Linked DNA regions of Homo sapiens. The protein of the gene in region 2 purifies or fractionates together with the protein of the main gene of each other region. This does not show direct contact. Each region holds a gene or a part of one and is shown on either strand. Other genes may lie near its edges. The genes, in order: TJP2 and PRKD1.

Region 1 (8,173 bases), on a different chromosome or scaffold from region 2:
CCACTGCACTCCAGCCTGGGTGACAGAGCAAGCCCGTCTCAAAAAAAAAAAAAAAAAAGAAGAGAGAGAGAGAGAAATCAGTCTGAACTGCAGCAGCAGTTCTTGAGGAATGATGAAAATAATAAATTATAACCACTGCCATTTACTGAGCACCTCAAAGCAACCCCAGGTGGCATCTATGCCATTTCTTCTTTGCTGGCACTGAGTTTCTGTTTCTACCAGAGATCCCCCATCTCTCTTGCCAACAGGGTTCTACCAGCGAGGTACACGTGTTTGAGATTTGGAAGGATGAAGGAAAGCAGAAGCCATTTGTTTTTCTTCTTCCTACAGACAGCAGCAGTAGCAGGCAAAAGTTGGATTCCTCAGACATGAGCTTTACAGCATGTCCAGATTCCCTGCCCTTTCACCAGCCTCAAGGCTGGAGATGCTGAGAAGGTGGAAGGTCAAGCAAGACCTTCTGAGTCTTCTCTGGGTGGCAGCAGCTTTCTAACTTTTTTTGCGGCAAATCAGAAAGCCAGCGGTGGGCTTCCATTTTTTGCGCATCTCGCCTTTTCTTTGTCCTGAAGGCAACTAATACTCTGTATTGAATCCCCTTCTCCTTGAAATAGCTAGAATGACATGTCTTCTTGACTGAACCATGACTGATAGGGTAGGCCTATTTTACAACTGAGAAAACTGAACATGAGAAAAAGGTAAATTGCTCAAAGTCAAGCAAGCAAGTGGCAGGACAAAAGAATTCACACCCAGGTTTATTTGACTTCAGAGGTAAAGAATCAAAGTTAAACATCTGTAACCTGGCTGGGCGTGGTGGCTCGCATTTATAATCCCAGCATTTTGGGAGGCCAAGGTGGGCAGACTGCTTGAACTCAGGAGTTGAAGAGAAACCTGTCTCTACTAAAAATACAAAAATTAGCTAGGTGTAGTGGCGCATGCCTGTAATCCCAGCTACTTGGGAGGCTGAAGCAGGAGAATCACTTGAACCTGGGAGGCACAGGTCGCAATGAGCTGAGATCATGCCACTGCACTCCAGCCTGGGTGACAGAGTGAGACTGTCTCAAAAAATATTTTTTTTAATCTAAAATAAGTTTTTTAAAAAATCCCTAACCTATGGTCCTAGGAATTCACACAAGAGAAATGGGTGTACATGTCCACAAGGCAATGTGTAGGTGCTTTTCATGGCAGCTTTATTCATAATAGCAAAAACACTGAAAATAACCCAAATACCTATCAACAGAAGAGATAAGCCAAATGTGACAGATGCATATAAATGGAATACGACTCAGTGGCAAAAAAGAACTACTGAATCTCACGCAACAAATACGGATGAATTTCACAGAGGTTAGGTTGAGTGAAAGATGACAGACATAAAATGTTGATTTTATTTATATATGGGTCCTCTCCCAAGTTCAAGCAAAAGTGTTCCACGGTGAGAGAAGTCAGAAGAGAAGTTCTCTTTTAGGTAGGTGTGGTAATCATTGGAAAAGTGGCAAGAGAGAACCTTCCAGAGTGATGGAAAATTCTAGTTTTTAATCTAGGTGGTAATCATGCAGGTGAATACATTCATGTAAAAATTCACCTACCTCTGGAACTAGAGAGTGATGGTGTTTACAAAATACTGTGAGTGTATTAAATGCCATTGAATTTTATACTTTAAAATGGTTAAAATGGTACACTTAATGTTATGTGTACTTTACCACAATAAATAAAATTCCCTGGCCAGGCACAATGGCTCACGCCTGTAATTCCAGCACTTTGGGAGGCTGAGGCAGGTGGATCACCCGAGATCAGGAGTTCGAGATCAGCCTGACCAACATGAAGAAACCTTGTCTCTACTAAAAAAAAAAAAAATACAAAATTAGCCGGGCATGGTGGTGCGCACCTGTAGTCCCAACTACTCGGGAGGCTGAGGCCGGAGAATTGCTTGAACCTGGAGGGCACAGGTTGTGGTGAGCCGAGATGGCACCACTGCACTTCAGCCTGGGCAACAAGAGTGAAACTCCATCTCAAAAAAAAAAAAAAAAAGAAATTCATCAAGCTCTCTACTTGAGATTTGTGTGTGTGTATATGTATATACATACATATAAATTCAACGAAATTGATAACACAGAAAAAGCTTCATTATCAATAAGCAGACTTGTAACAGAGGTCGTGCCACTGCTTCTACAGGAAAATTTTCTTCATGGAAACATACCAGGCAAATTTTTTTAGCTCTAAGTCTGGCAGATTGAGTCTACCTTTCCTGCCTCTTCCAGATCCTTCACTGCCCAAAGTCATCTGCCAAACTGTGCACTTAAATAGTATAAGTAGACTAAATATTTCTCTCAGACCTTTGATTAAAATTCAATTTAGGCTCAAAACGAACTTGGGGCCTCTTCCTTTCAATGTGTTGCAAACTTGGGGCTTCTTCATTTCAATGTGTTGCCACTTGCCCTTGTTTTTAGGCTTTAACAATAACACCAGAAGGAAACGCACAAATGTTTCCAGCTCCATTTCTGGAAAATTTCAGTGAGTGTCTAAGATGCCACAATGTCTCTCCTCTCTTAAAACTCACCCAGACACTAAACAGACCAGCCCAAGGAAGGCAAAGTGCTCTGCCTGAGGTGACGTTGAAAAACTCCAACATGCCTGAAGTTATGCTGAAACTCAGATGACAGCAGTGATTTTACACCAGTGAACAATGTGGTTTTTTGCAGCAGTGACCAGTAGGCTCATCTTCAACACATTTGTGAAGAACAAATCAGAAAGGGCTCCCAGCTGCAGGCCTGCCCCTCCTTCCAAGCGTATGTCACAGGCAATGAGGCCCGGGGAGAAGTCCATGGGGGTGGAGAGGAAGAGGAAGAGGAAGAAGGATTCTCAAGAAGCTCTGCAAGATGGTTGCAGTTGCTGGCTTAAGCTGCAAAGTAAGGAAGAGAATCCAGCACACGTGGTGCTGGTACATAATTTAAGCTGCAACTGAATAATAGATCTTTCCATCACTTTATGAGCAAAACAACTACCAGCCACTCTTGGACTCTGTCTTTTTAAAAAATGCTTTTCAGAGATAATCCACTGGATCTCTAAAAAAAAAAGAAAGCAAGCAAGCAAACACAAACGTAGTTTAAGGAGCACAAAAACATTTTAAGATGAGAAGAACCAATGGAAATAATTTAGAATGTTCTCTAGGCTTTATACTCAAACTTCAAAACCTTCAGAATCTTAAGCACAAAAGACTTTGAGATGATCAACTGTAACTACTCATTTTCTGATAAAGAAACTGAGAACTAGGCCAGGCGAGGTGGCTCATGCCTATAATCCCAGCACTTCGGGAGGCCAAGGCAGGCGGATCACGAGCTCAGGAGTTCGAGACCAGCCTGGCCAACATGGTGAAGCCCCGTCTCTACCAAAGATACAAAAAATTAGCAGGGTGTGGTGGCGTGTGCCTGTAATCCCAGCTACTTGGGAGGCTGAGGCAGGAGAATCGCTTGAACCTAGGAGGCAGACGTTGCAGTGAGCTGAGATCGGGCCATTGCACTCCAGCCTCAGCGATAGGGCTAGACTCCACCTCAAAAAAAAAAAAAAAAAAAAAAAAAAGAAATTGCAAACTAGAGTCACAAGACAGCAAAAGCCACCCAGCTAATCAGTGGTGCAGCTAATGCTGCTTCCATGCCATTACAAAAATGGTCTAGATGAAATTCTATAATTTTTTTTGGACAAAATTCTCTGGATGAAATTCGCAATTCTAACAAACGATCATCTACTCACTATATAAATGTCAGGAATCCACTGTCCTAATTTCTCAATTAGTCTCTTATTCCTACTAGCTTATACAACAAGCCTGCCCCAAATCAAGTCAGTCCAACGTTTAGTGGATGTGTTGGTGCTCTGTTAGCTTCTGGGGTTACCAAGATGACTCAGACCAGGGAGGGGCTCAGGGCTGATGGGAAGTGATAAGGGCTAGAATAAATACTAGCATGTGCATCCTCACCAATCACAGGCAAGAACACAATTGATTCAGCCAGACTGCAGAAGGGTAACGCAGAAACCAGGCTGCTAAAACTGAGCTCACCAGGAAGTTCCTTCCAAATGATTCATTCCTTTCAAAAACAGAAATGTTTAGTTTTGCTAATTAATTCCCTCAAATAATTTCATCTGCTTTGCCATATATACCTAGGAACAGTCTTCCAAGGACTGAGAGCAGAATGATTGTCTCTCGAAGCCTACATTACTTACTCCTATTCCCATTGTAGAGCTCCACCCAGGGTCTCAGGTGTGCTCAGCTTTAGTAGGCATCAAAGAAACACAACCTAGAACTCGGAACACTTCCTTTAATACTCTGAAAACAAATGACTCTCAACAAATGGAAAAAAATGGCCCCAAGTGGAACATTATTTCCCCCTCAGAAGAACCTAGAAGGTCCTTGAAGCTACATGTCCTGGAAGAGTTAATTCCTACTGATGACTAGAAAGTACTGTTTTCTCTGTTTACCTTCAACTCAAGTGACAAAATCCAAAGTATCTGCAATGTTCTCACGTCTCCACCAAAGCTTTTAATACGATGGCAAAGGCATAACTGGATTTTAGTCACATTCTATTCATTACAGCCATAACTGTTACCTACCAGTAAGAATAACTATTCTAATAACTCTCTCCCACAATGGGTTACAAACATTCCCTCCAAATGCCTGACTTGTCACTAACTCGTGTGTTTAGTACCATAGTTATATAGGGTATCTATAATATAGAGCATACTGTAAAGTTTCCAAAGATGATACCATGTTTTCTCTGTGAACATAATGCATATATTTAATATGGCTGATTAAAGTCTACAATAGAAATAATAATTACCACACTAATTAATTCTGAAGTCCATGTTCACATACACATATAGGTAAAATTTAGTGAACATGTGTACTCAAGAATGTGACATAAGATCCTTGCCATGATTAAAGGTATGATTCGAAATCTTTTGGTCAGCCTAACTTACTAAAACACAAATATTTGATTCATGGAAGATCCATTAAGAGATTCACTTTCAGCCGGGCGCGGTGGCTCACACCTCTAATCCCAGCACTTTGGGAGGCCGAGGCGGGTGGATCACGAGGTCAGGAGATCAAGACCATCCTGGCTAACATGGTGAAACCCCGTCTCTACTAAAAATACAAAAAATTAGCCGGGCGTGGTGGCGGGCGCCTGTAGTCCCAGCTACTGGGGAGGCTGAATGGCGTGAACCCGGGAGGTGGAGCTTGCAGTGAGCCGAGATCGCACCACTGCATTCCAGCCTGGGCGACAGAGGGAGACTCCGTCTCAAAAAAAAAAAAAAAGAAAGAAAAAGAAAAAAGTAACTTACTTTCACCACCACCGCTGTTACTGCACCCCCATACAGTAACTGTAGGAAAACAAAATAGAAACCATAACCACTGATATTCTAATTGAGCTAAAAGGTAAAATAAACATTCATTATAACAAAATGTATCTGACTATGGTCTGCAATATACAATGGTGTGTAAATGGTTAAGGAAAGCTACATTACGTTTTTCAGGTTAAAAAACCTGATTTAACTTTAACCATCTGGCAGAGGCACTAAACAAACATCTGTGCTGATTTTAAATGACTAAAGTACAAGTTACTAATTGAAAGCTTAGGATTTCTCATAAATGGTGTGAACACACACATCACTAGAGAGTCTACTGAAACAGTATTTTCTCTTCTCCTTGATTCATTCGCCTGCCATGAGCATGCATCTCTCTAGGTCAAAGCAGGGATACTTGTTTTCTACCTCAAGGCTTCCTGTTCCTACGAAAATCCTTGTTAAAGCCTATTTTACAGACCAATACAAGCTTCATATTAAAAAAAAAATAAGAAAAAAAAACTCATCCAGTTGGCATTCTTCTGAAAGACTTTGAGAAATTAAATGCATTTACAGGTGAGGCTGTTTGGCTGTCCACATTCTTCGGCAATGAATCATGAGCAAGAGTCACTTGATAATACAGTGATGTCCTTCATCAGTGTCAAAATACTTCCTCCCCTATCACTCTATCATATCAAAAATATCATACCAACAGACCTTTAAAAACTGCAGAATGGCTTGTGGAAGCAGAGAAAGGAATGAGAATTGGGCCAGACGTTAAAACAAACAGCTAGCTCTACAAATACACTGTCTGCAACCACATCTAAGAGATCTGAGTGGATAAGAGCAGGATGCACACGCTTAAGACAGAAAGTCCATCAAATTCAACTTTCCTGGCTATTCTGGGCCATTCTGTGTTTGACTTTCTTGAAGGCGTGGTCAAGGTATACCAGGCTCTCTATAAGTAAGCACCACACTCATATTTTAAGCAGTATTATGCACACCTCAGATGTCAAGGGCTAGCTTTACCATTTTTGCCTTAGCCTCATATTACTCATTCCCAGAGTTGATAATTTTTCTTAAAGCAAACTCACTGCTTTACTTAATATTTATTTTTGCCTCATTCTAAGCAATCTAGCCATGAAATAAATGGATGTGGTAGCTGGTTTTCTGTTTTTATTCCTAACATATAATATTCATGCATCATAATTGAAAAATAGAATATGTATCTCTCTGCACCACCTGTAAGTCTGTCTGTATACCAGACTTTGGAAAGCACTGTTTTGGGATAGCATAAAAGGTAGAGAAAATGCTTTATTAAATGATTAGGTATTTTGGGGGTATGATAGTCCTTACTCTGTCTCCTCTGAGAGCTCACAGGTTATCTAGGATGATGAAGCTTTGGTTGTTTAATGGCCAGCTGGATGATAGAGACACCAATCCCTTTAAAAAACAGAATGGAGCCGTCACTGTTATGGGTAGCCATTGCCCCAGCTTGTGCAGGTCTTCTGGGGCTCTAGCTGTCAGTCACCCAGTTCTAAGAAGTGCTTTTCCTAATCAAATGGAAAAAGTGGAAGCAGACACTCTCCAACTCGGAACTCTGCCTCTCACACTACAATGTATGCAGCATACTAGCTCAACTGCTTTCCTAGGTACCATCCAAAATTAAAACTAGTGGCCGGGCACGGTGGCTCACTTCTGTAATCCCAGCTACTTTGAAGGCTGAAGCAAGAGAACCGCTTGAACCCGGGAGGCAGAGGTTGCAGTGAGCCAAGACCGCACCACCACACTTCAGCCTGGGCAACAGAGCAAGACTCCATCTCCAAAAAAAAAACCAAAAAAACAAAAATAAAATTAAAACTAGCTACTGCAATACTGCATATTGGATTTCCATGCCTGAATTTTTTTTTCCATTGCTATCACACAGCCTTTTCAAAAAGTTTAATAGTAATACCACCTTAGACCCTCCCAAATTCACTTTCTATATGGGCATCTACTAAAAAGGCTGATTGCAAAAATTCCTATGAGGGAGAAACAGGCCCTAAATAGCTTTTTAAACCTTAACAAAGTTCACATAACCATTGATGTGTTTAACCCACTAAATGGGTGTTAAATCTAACCTCTGAGTCTGTGTTTCTGACCCTAACCCTTGGATTTAGGATCAAGACAAAAACTCAGTAAAACACCAGAGAAAACTGTTCTGCTTCCCTCCACTCCCATCTGGGGCAATCTCACCCTCAGACACTACCATATACCAAATCACCTTCTCTGGAAAATCAAGGCTGGTTGGTCCAACAACTGTTGGGCCCCTGATTACTGCTTAGAGTCAAATCAATGAGGCATGTTATTGGGAATCAGCTCTCAACCTAGATAAATTCATCTGTAGCCACAACTGCTTAATGGGATTCGTTCTAGAGATGAGGCAAGGAATTCCCTGGTGGCTCATATTGTTGGTAGAATATGTTGAAAGTTTCAGCAGTGATTGCGAACCCTTCTACCGCTTCACCCCGCCCCCACCACACCCAAACTTCATGCCTCTCCCCAACCAAGTCTGCATGACTTTTTAAATTACTATTTATATTACTACACATATTATTGTACACAGGACTAAAGTGGCCCCGCCTAGTTTCAATAACTTGTGTCTCGTAAAAAGATAACCTTCTTAAGGAGAGAAAACCTTGCTAAACTCAAAATCTCCCTTGCCTTCAGCAGTATGCAGAAAGTTCTCACACTTGTCCTGAAGAGAAATGGTTGGCTGTGAACTTTTGTCAGTGTACAAAGAACTAGATCAAAAGTTAAATGTAGGCAGAAGTCATTGCAAATGCAATTCCCCCGGGGGTGATGTAAA
Region 2 (8,173 bases):
TTCTTTTATAACCAATAGCTCTAGAGGTCTGTAATTGCCTAATACATAGTGTTTACCTGAATTTGTTAAATTTTAATATAAAATAGCTATAATAAAATAGGATAATTTAACAAACTAAACATCTTAGTATGTGCAGCAGCTTTTATTTAGACACCCTACATTCTACAATAAACTAAGTCATCCCCAAGAAGTCTTTCTTCATTCTGTTCTTAGGAAGGGCAGGGCACATGTTTACTAAGCAAGGGGTAGGCACATGATGAGCTTTGGGCTGGTTAGAAAACTGGCAGACTCACTGTGCAAGTTGGTTCCTGTACCCACGGAGGAGCCCTTGGGAATGACGGGCATAAGGGCATGCTGGATGGCTATCTCCCACATCCTGGCCACATCTGCACCAACGCCACTGGTGAGAACACTGTTATTTGGTGATGGGCTGGAAGGATTGACCACATTTTCTCCCACATAATACACTACATTTGCCGTAGTGATTTCGAAACAATGAGGATTGGCCCCATTAGGAATTAAAGCTGAAGTTTTTACTGGTTCCAGAGACAAAATTTCAGATAAAGGAATTTCCTGTGAAAGAAAAAAAGTACTAAATGTTGTTTATCAAAAGTATGTAAACTTTCAAAGAAAATTCATGCCAAGAACATGTGAAAAATGACATCACAAATAGCCACCATTTAAATAAAATACTTTTAAACTATAAAACACAGAATACTGCTAAGCAAAATTAAAAAAAATACCTTTACTATGGGAAACCTTATTTCCTTTTTCTAGAAAATGTGACTTTTTATGCTATGTTCATGTGGCGAGAATCAGTATGGTTAGGAAAAATGATTTTGAATCTTCACCAAAATCCAAGACTTAGAAAATAAGCGATAATTTTTGTAACAGTGAGGTAGAATCACAACACTTTTGAAATGCATTTAGGCAGACATGGCTATTTTTAAATTTTAACCTATTCTTTAAGGCACTCAATACATGTTAATGTAATAACATAGCCAAGTGAATAGTTTAAGTGAGGACAACTAGAGATTGGTTTTAAAATGGTCTTTTTTTTTTTTTTTCCAAGAAAGAATCTTGCTCCGTCACCTACGCTGGAGTGCAGTGGCGTGATCTCGGCTCACTGCAACCTCCATCTCCCAGTTTCAAGCAATTCTCCTGCCTCAGCCTCCCAAGTAGCTGGAATTACAGGCACCTGCCACTACACCTGGCTAATTTTTGTATTTTTAGTAGAGACAGGGTTTCAACATGTTGGCCAGCCTGGTCTTGAACTCCTAACCTCATGCTGCCTGCCTCGGTGTCCCAAAGTCCTGGGATTACAAGGGTGAGCCACTGCGCCTGGCCTTTTATTTATTTATTTTTATTTTTGAGACAGAGACTTATTCTGTTGCTCAGGCTGGAGTGCATTGGTGCAATCCTGGCTCGCTGCAAACTCCGCCTCCTAGATTAAGGTGATTCTCCTGCCTCAGCATCCTGAGTAGCTGAGATTACAGGTGCATCCCATCACGACTGGCTAATTTGTGTATTTTTGTAAAGACAAGGTTTCACCATGTTGGCCAGGCTGGTCTAGAACTCCTGACCTCAAATGATCCACCTGCCTCGGCCTCCCAAAGTGCTGGGATTACAGGCATGAGCCACTGCGCCTGGCCAATAGTCATCATTTTTAAGGCAATTCATACTAAAAAAAAGAAATCACTACTGCATCTTCCAGGAAGTATGCAGGGGCTAAAAAATAATAACTTTTAAAACAAAGTTTTAATTTTAAAATTAGTGAGGTTTCCATTTTCTGTGACAGCTATGTAAAATGGCTGTGGAGAATCAAATCAACTATTCCAGAGTCTGCATTCATTTTGAAGGAGCAAGTATCTATTATTTTCTCTATGAAGTTTTTTTTGGAGTTGTGTTTTACTGGGTGATATAGTATGCCACATCTGTATTACTTAATGTAGAGGGACAGAATAAAAATTGCTGCCATTTTTTTCTCTAGAGGAAAGTGCTCTTTGTGAATATTGACAAGCATGGAGAAATCATACAATGTTTCTTCACTCCTAGCAGTGTGCTAGATGCAGTGGATATCAGGAGTTTACTTTGAGCTGATCTGCTGTGACCATTAATTTTCTAGTTAAATCACACTTCTCTGCTAACATATTCAATTAATCTTCACCTCCCTCCCTCTCCCATCATCCCATGGTACCAGAAACACTCCCCAGGGAAATTTAAAATTCACAGAAGAATCAAGAGGTCCCAACCTGAATCCCAAGAAATTTGTAGACTATAGAGAAGAAAAAAAAAATAGTTCCTGGAGGAAGCACAAAAATAGCCACGTTTGTTGGATGTATTTCCTATTTCTTATACTCTACATTCCCATGAAAAAGCAATAAGAGGTATGAAACTACAAAGAAAGAGCCCACTCTTACCTTGTAGTACCTGCTTCCTGTGTCATTCTGAAAGAGGGTAATACATTTGCTATCCAATCTCCAATAGTGCCGTTTCCGCTGAAACAGAAGTTAGATCCAAGATCTTTTTAAAAAACTTTAAAAATATCCCCAATTGAAAACATAAATAGATTTCCCCAATAGGGACATGCGATTTGAGGGTGGAAAGTGCATGGGCTTTGGGAAAGGCAGACTCATGCTCAATTTCAGGCTCTAGAGGTTGACTATTTAGCACATGTCTGATAAGTATCTGCATTTATGTTACAGGGTCGTGAGTAATAAAGAAGATGAAGTATTAGCGCCCAGTAAGAGCCTGGCATTTAGAAAGTGCATAGTAAACAGAAAACATCATTTTTAAGCTTATTTCACTGCTTGAAGGGCTAAAGGTGGATGTATAGTCTATAATAAAATAAGGTTTACTAGGAGATGCAATGTTTATTATGCATGCTCATTATTTTAGGACGTAAGAAATCCCATGCTGATGGAGCCAGGTATTCTTGCTTCCATTGGCAATGGGAAAATTCTGAATGTTAGAGTAGAAGTAAAGAATATTTTGTTGGACAATAAGTTTGACTCCATGACATCAACTTAAAGTCAGGGGAATGCATCAAACAACCAACTCTACCTTCTCTCCAGCTCACTACAGATCTAACCACTATGATTTGATGAACAGGTCCTTCTACACTGTAGGTATATCTTTCAGGATTTTAGGGTGTGTGTGTATTTTTATCTTATAAAAGACCCCAAAGCTCTATGATTCCGCTCTTCTCCTCCACAACCAATTTTAGGCCAGTCAAATATATTAAATATATTACACCATGTCTAAAAAGAACTAGGCGGTATTCAATTGAGTCCTATAATATCAGGTAGGTCTTCTCTCTCTAACACAGATGGTCGAAATTATAGATAGATCAATTAGGTTATAGGTGTCTGCTTATCTGTAGTGATCCTATAGGTAAGAGATGAGAAAAGCAATACAGTAACAGAAATCAGTCAATTGTCAACTTAACTTTGAAACGTGAATCAAGTTGTTCTCTCTTACGTACGTACACAACCTCATTCCTCAACTATTAAGAAAATCTCAGGGTACAGGATTCCAATGTTCCTGAATGGGTCAGTTCTTCAGGGAAAACTTAGTTAAGGACTTACGAAGTATAAGATAGTTATCACTGTTTTATTCTCTGCCTAGAATGCAGTGTTTCCTATAAAATTCTAAATTGCAGTGAAGCATTCTGAAAGCACATACTGTGGCTTCCACAAGTGCTATAAAATGGCAGGTAGACATCTCAGGTAATCAAGGTCAATGAATTTGTTTGCCTGAAATTGCTTTCCACACTTTTTCCTAACTTCGTTGCTTGCTCAACTATATCTGACACCCAGAGACTGTAATGCACCTTACCTAATCCCGTGTCATGCCTGTGCTGAGGTTTACTCTGAGTAATGCAGAAATCTCACAGTCCTCACGGGACATTAGCAACTCCTCTAATTAAAGCTAGCAAGGCAAGAGAACATTGTTCCCTGTGGATCTTACCAGCGTGTCCTTGCTGGTGTAGTGGACCATCCATCCTTCTTTCATGACTGTGCTGCTTTTCCTCTTCGTGTGTTTGACAGACTGCACTACCCTCATGAGTGGGATATTGTTGCTTGTTGATGGACTTGAGAAGTCAAAATATTGTAGGGAAAAAATGTTTTCAGGTACATTTTATGTATTTTCATGCATAAAACCTTATGTCAGCTAATCCAAGTGAAACTTTACAAAATTCACATCTCATGTTTAGTAAAACGTATTGTCAGGCACCATGGTTCTGAAAGTGGGTTACTCTGAAGAGTGATAGGCACGTTGTTTGTACACCTTAAAAAATCCTGGCCGGGTGCAGTGACTCACATCTGTAATCCCAGCACTTTGGGAGGCCGAGGCGGGTGGATCACGAGGTCAGGAGTTCAAGACCAGCCTGGCCAAGATGGTGAAACCCCGTCTCTACTAAAAGTACAAAAAAAATCAGCTGGGCATGTTGGCGGGCACCTGTAATCCCAGCTACTTGGGAAGCTGAGGCAGAGAATTGCTTGAACTCGGGAGGCAGAGGTTGCAATGAGCCAAGATTGTACCACTGCACTCCAGCCTGGGTGACAGAGCAAGACTCCATCTGAAAAAAAAAAAAATTCCCAAGGCTGGGTAATAAGCACCTCATATTTTGGGTTGAACTGTATGGTGTTCAGTTTTCAGGTAAACCTGAGGTAGAGTACTTCTTAGTCTACTGAGGCCACACTATTCAGACTCACACATGAAAGCTTATTTGCTTATTTATTTCCTATTATAGGTACATTATCAATCATTTAGAGATTACATTATTCAACATGAATTTTTAGTTTCTCTGCATAATGTCATAAAAATTGGAATCTGCTAGTCTCTGTTTCTTCCTCTCTTCATCCCTCCCTCCTTGTCCCCCTTCCCACAACATGAATATATATGTAATTCCCACCACTGCCCCCCGGCACCATGCAAACTCTTTGGTACTAAAGAAGTGTATGTCTTCAAAAGACAGGTCACAAGACAATTATTTCCCACTATTTAAAAAATGTTCATTATGCCATTAAATGGAAAAAAACAATCATTTTATTGCTCTACTCTCATGAACAATTTGTTTGTCAATAAACATGGCATTCGTAAAATGGACACAAAAGTTTCAATAGGCTTTATAATATAAATCAGAGACTAGGAAACATTTTCTGTAAAGGGCCAGGTAATAAATATTTTAGTTTTTGCAAAAGACCTAACTTTACCAATATAGTGCAAAAGCAGCCACAGACAATATGAATGGACAGGCTATGTTCCAATAAAACTTTACTACAAATTGGGCAGCAGTCCAATTTGCTCTGGTGGCCACATTGTGCTGACTCCTGATATAAAAAGTGGGGATCATCCAGTAACCAAAAGCATAATTAAATAACAGATATAAAATTGCACATACTTCTGAAATAATATCAAGAACAGTGAAGTGTACACAGACTATGATATTTGTAACAGGGGCCAGCTAATAAAATAGATGATTTCTGCTGAGTTTGATCTTGATTTTTGTTGTTTCTACACAATGAGCTTCAAATTAATATTAACTTAGTAATAAACTTGTGGATGGCAAACATGAGCATCTCTCACATGCAAAAAAAAAAAAAAAATAGTTCAATGAATGAGGTGATGCTGGGAAAGAATGGCAACCACACTTCTCCCAGGGAACCCAGACCTCCTAACTTCAAAGGCTCTCATTTACAGCACGCAGTTCATTCATATAAAAGTAAACGTGCACTTCACATTTCTACTATAATCTATTAAAATATCAAAGAGGTTTAAAGAGAAAATACTGCCTGGGGTTCCCCTGTTGGCTGAGGCTGGGAGTGCTGCTCTCACCTGATGGTTCTGTTGGCGTCCTCGTGGTCTGGGTCTGGATCTTGCATCTCGCCACTGTCGTTCTGGCACTCTGCCATTGCCATCTCTGCATCTTGGACCATTGCTTCTTCCATATCATCCATGAGCCCACTGTTCCTTTCACTATCATTGTCATCACTCCCTTCTTCCATGACCACATCAGACTCTGCCCCAGGGCTAAGCAAATCTAGAAAATTATTTTCACCCATGAAGATAAGCCTGGAATCTTGGAGCCAGGGCTTAAGAGACAGTCAGGTGATCCTAAAACAAATCAATTGGAAGCCCCAAAGAGGTAGTTCTGTGATGAGTTTATTTTTTATTTTTTAACTTTTATTTTAAGTTTAGGAGTATATGTGCAGGTTTATTACATAGGTAAACTTGTGTCATGGGGGTTTGTTGTACAGATTATTTCATCACCCAGGTATTAAGCCTGGTACCCATTAGTTATTTTTCCTGATCCTCCCACCCTCCAACCTTGAAGGGACCCCGTATGTGTTATTCCCCACTATGTGACCATGTGTTCTCATCATTTACCTCCCACTTATAAGTGAGAACATGTGGTATTTGCTTTTCTGTTCCTGTGTTAGTTTGCTAAAGATAATGGCCTCCAGATCCTTCCATGATTTTCAATTTCCTTTTTTATTTCAGTTTATATGCATCTGAGTTTATGAGAGGTTGAACATGTAATTTTATAGGTAGATGCTCGTTTTCCGTTTTCCCAAGCCTGAAAACATGAAAAGTCATGAAAAACCTTGGAAGGAAGCCAAAGCTGGGATAGAAGTAAAATGCTAGAAGGCAAAGTGATACCAGGCCCAAGTGACTGGGAAGCTGCTCATATTTTAGAAGCACAGCCCTGGTGGGAAAAAAAAGTATGTAAGAGGATGACAGAAATTTTCACATGAAAAAAGATTCAAGCCACTGATTCTTACTATTGGAGTAACTTTGAAAATCACGAATTCCAATATATTAAATTGGTCACATAGCTGCAGCTTTTAAATAAGACATTTGATATTTGAAGTAATATTGAACCTGTCATTATACAGTTGATGGTAATGGCAAAAATTAAAATTACTTACTAATGCAAAGTACTCATTTTAAAATGAAAATACAGATTAATGAGAGACTCTAGCCTGCCAAGCTTGGAAAATTCACATTTTACCAGATTTTTCTGAATGTATAAGAAAATAGAATTTCAAAGTAATCAACAACATCAAAAACTGTTCTGTATCCCCTTAGTTATAGTTATCCAGTACACACTGACATTCCCTGAGCCTGAACAAAGTCAACACCACATGCCACAGAAAGTGGGACGATCGCCAAGCTTTCAATTTTGGCAGCTAATTCATGAATCTCCAAGCCAGAAACAAGTGTGACAATGTTTTCCTGGAGAGCTCTTCCTTCTTCTTCTTTTAGGTACAGTATATATTTCTTCTAGAGAAGAAAGTTCTAGAGCAAAGATAGTCATTCTTCAGCTTCTTAGCAACAAAAATATTCAACTGAAAGTATCTGTGATCTTTTACAGCCATTTTCCTTTCCAGAGGAATTGGAAAACTGGTATCAGGCTAAAGGTATAAAGACCACTATCTGCAGAAAAAGCTAACCTGGGATTCTAAGTCAAATATTTTGGTAGTGATCCATTAGAATGCTACCCAAGAAGAAAATGTAAGCTCTTTGCTTAAGATATGGCATTTTTCTTAGCAGTCCTTCGAAGTTAATTTATACAGTTAGAGTTTTCTTGAAGGAATATTGCCAAATACAGAAAATACATCTATTTTTTTTTGGCTGACAAAGTTCCTTTTATTATTAAAGATGATTGAAATGAGAAGGACAGAGGAAAAGAGACTGAGAGCTATAACTTGTAGGCAGCCCAACAACATCCACATTTCTGGGCAAACTAGGATAAGAATATAAGATAATAAAACTGGGAAATAAATTATGGCTACCCAAGTTTTCAATACTAGCTGCTCACCATGTAAAGATCATGAAAGGGTCTTTGACTGTTATCAAAACTCCATGGATGCTTTTCTATTGTAAAGTAGAACAAACACTGGCCATAATTTACTTTAGACTGTGTCTGAAATATCTGAACCAAAACCAAAACCAAAAACCCTGACTAAAATTACATCACCACACTCTCTAATATGGAAGAAGCACAGACATGACAGCTGATCTTTTACCTACCTCCATTAATGGTCACTTCGCCAAGGCAGTTGTTTGGTACTTTCGGTGCACAACGTTTATGGCAGTTGAATCTGCAATCTAATCCCAGTGATTTTCAAACAAAACAAAATGAGAATTTGTCATAAAGAAAAGT

What was found.
Region 1: the proteins of PRKD1 (region 2) and TJP2 purify together in Homo sapiens (affinity purification with mass spectrometry; 2 studies listed by BioGRID and IntAct, with this or other methods). This does not show direct contact.

What each region holds. Positions count from the first base shown.
Region 1 is NC_000009.12:69,176,638-69,184,810, reverse strand, and holds part of TJP2 (tight junction protein 2), read right to left. Parts: intron 6,769-8,173; exon of another isoform or gene 6,682-6,768; intron 1-6,681. UniProt on the Homo sapiens protein: Plays a role in tight junctions and adherens junctions. Acts as a positive regulator of RANKL-induced osteoclast differentiation, potentially via mediating downstream transcriptional activity.
Region 2 is NC_000014.9:29,630,449-29,638,621, forward strand, and holds part of PRKD1 (serine/threonine-protein kinase D1), read right to left. Parts: intron 8,119-8,173; coding exon 8,041-8,118; intron 6,047-8,040; coding exon 5,842-6,046; intron 4,094-5,841; coding exon 3,970-4,093; intron 2,499-3,969; coding exon 2,421-2,498; intron 574-2,420; coding exon 294-573; intron 1-293.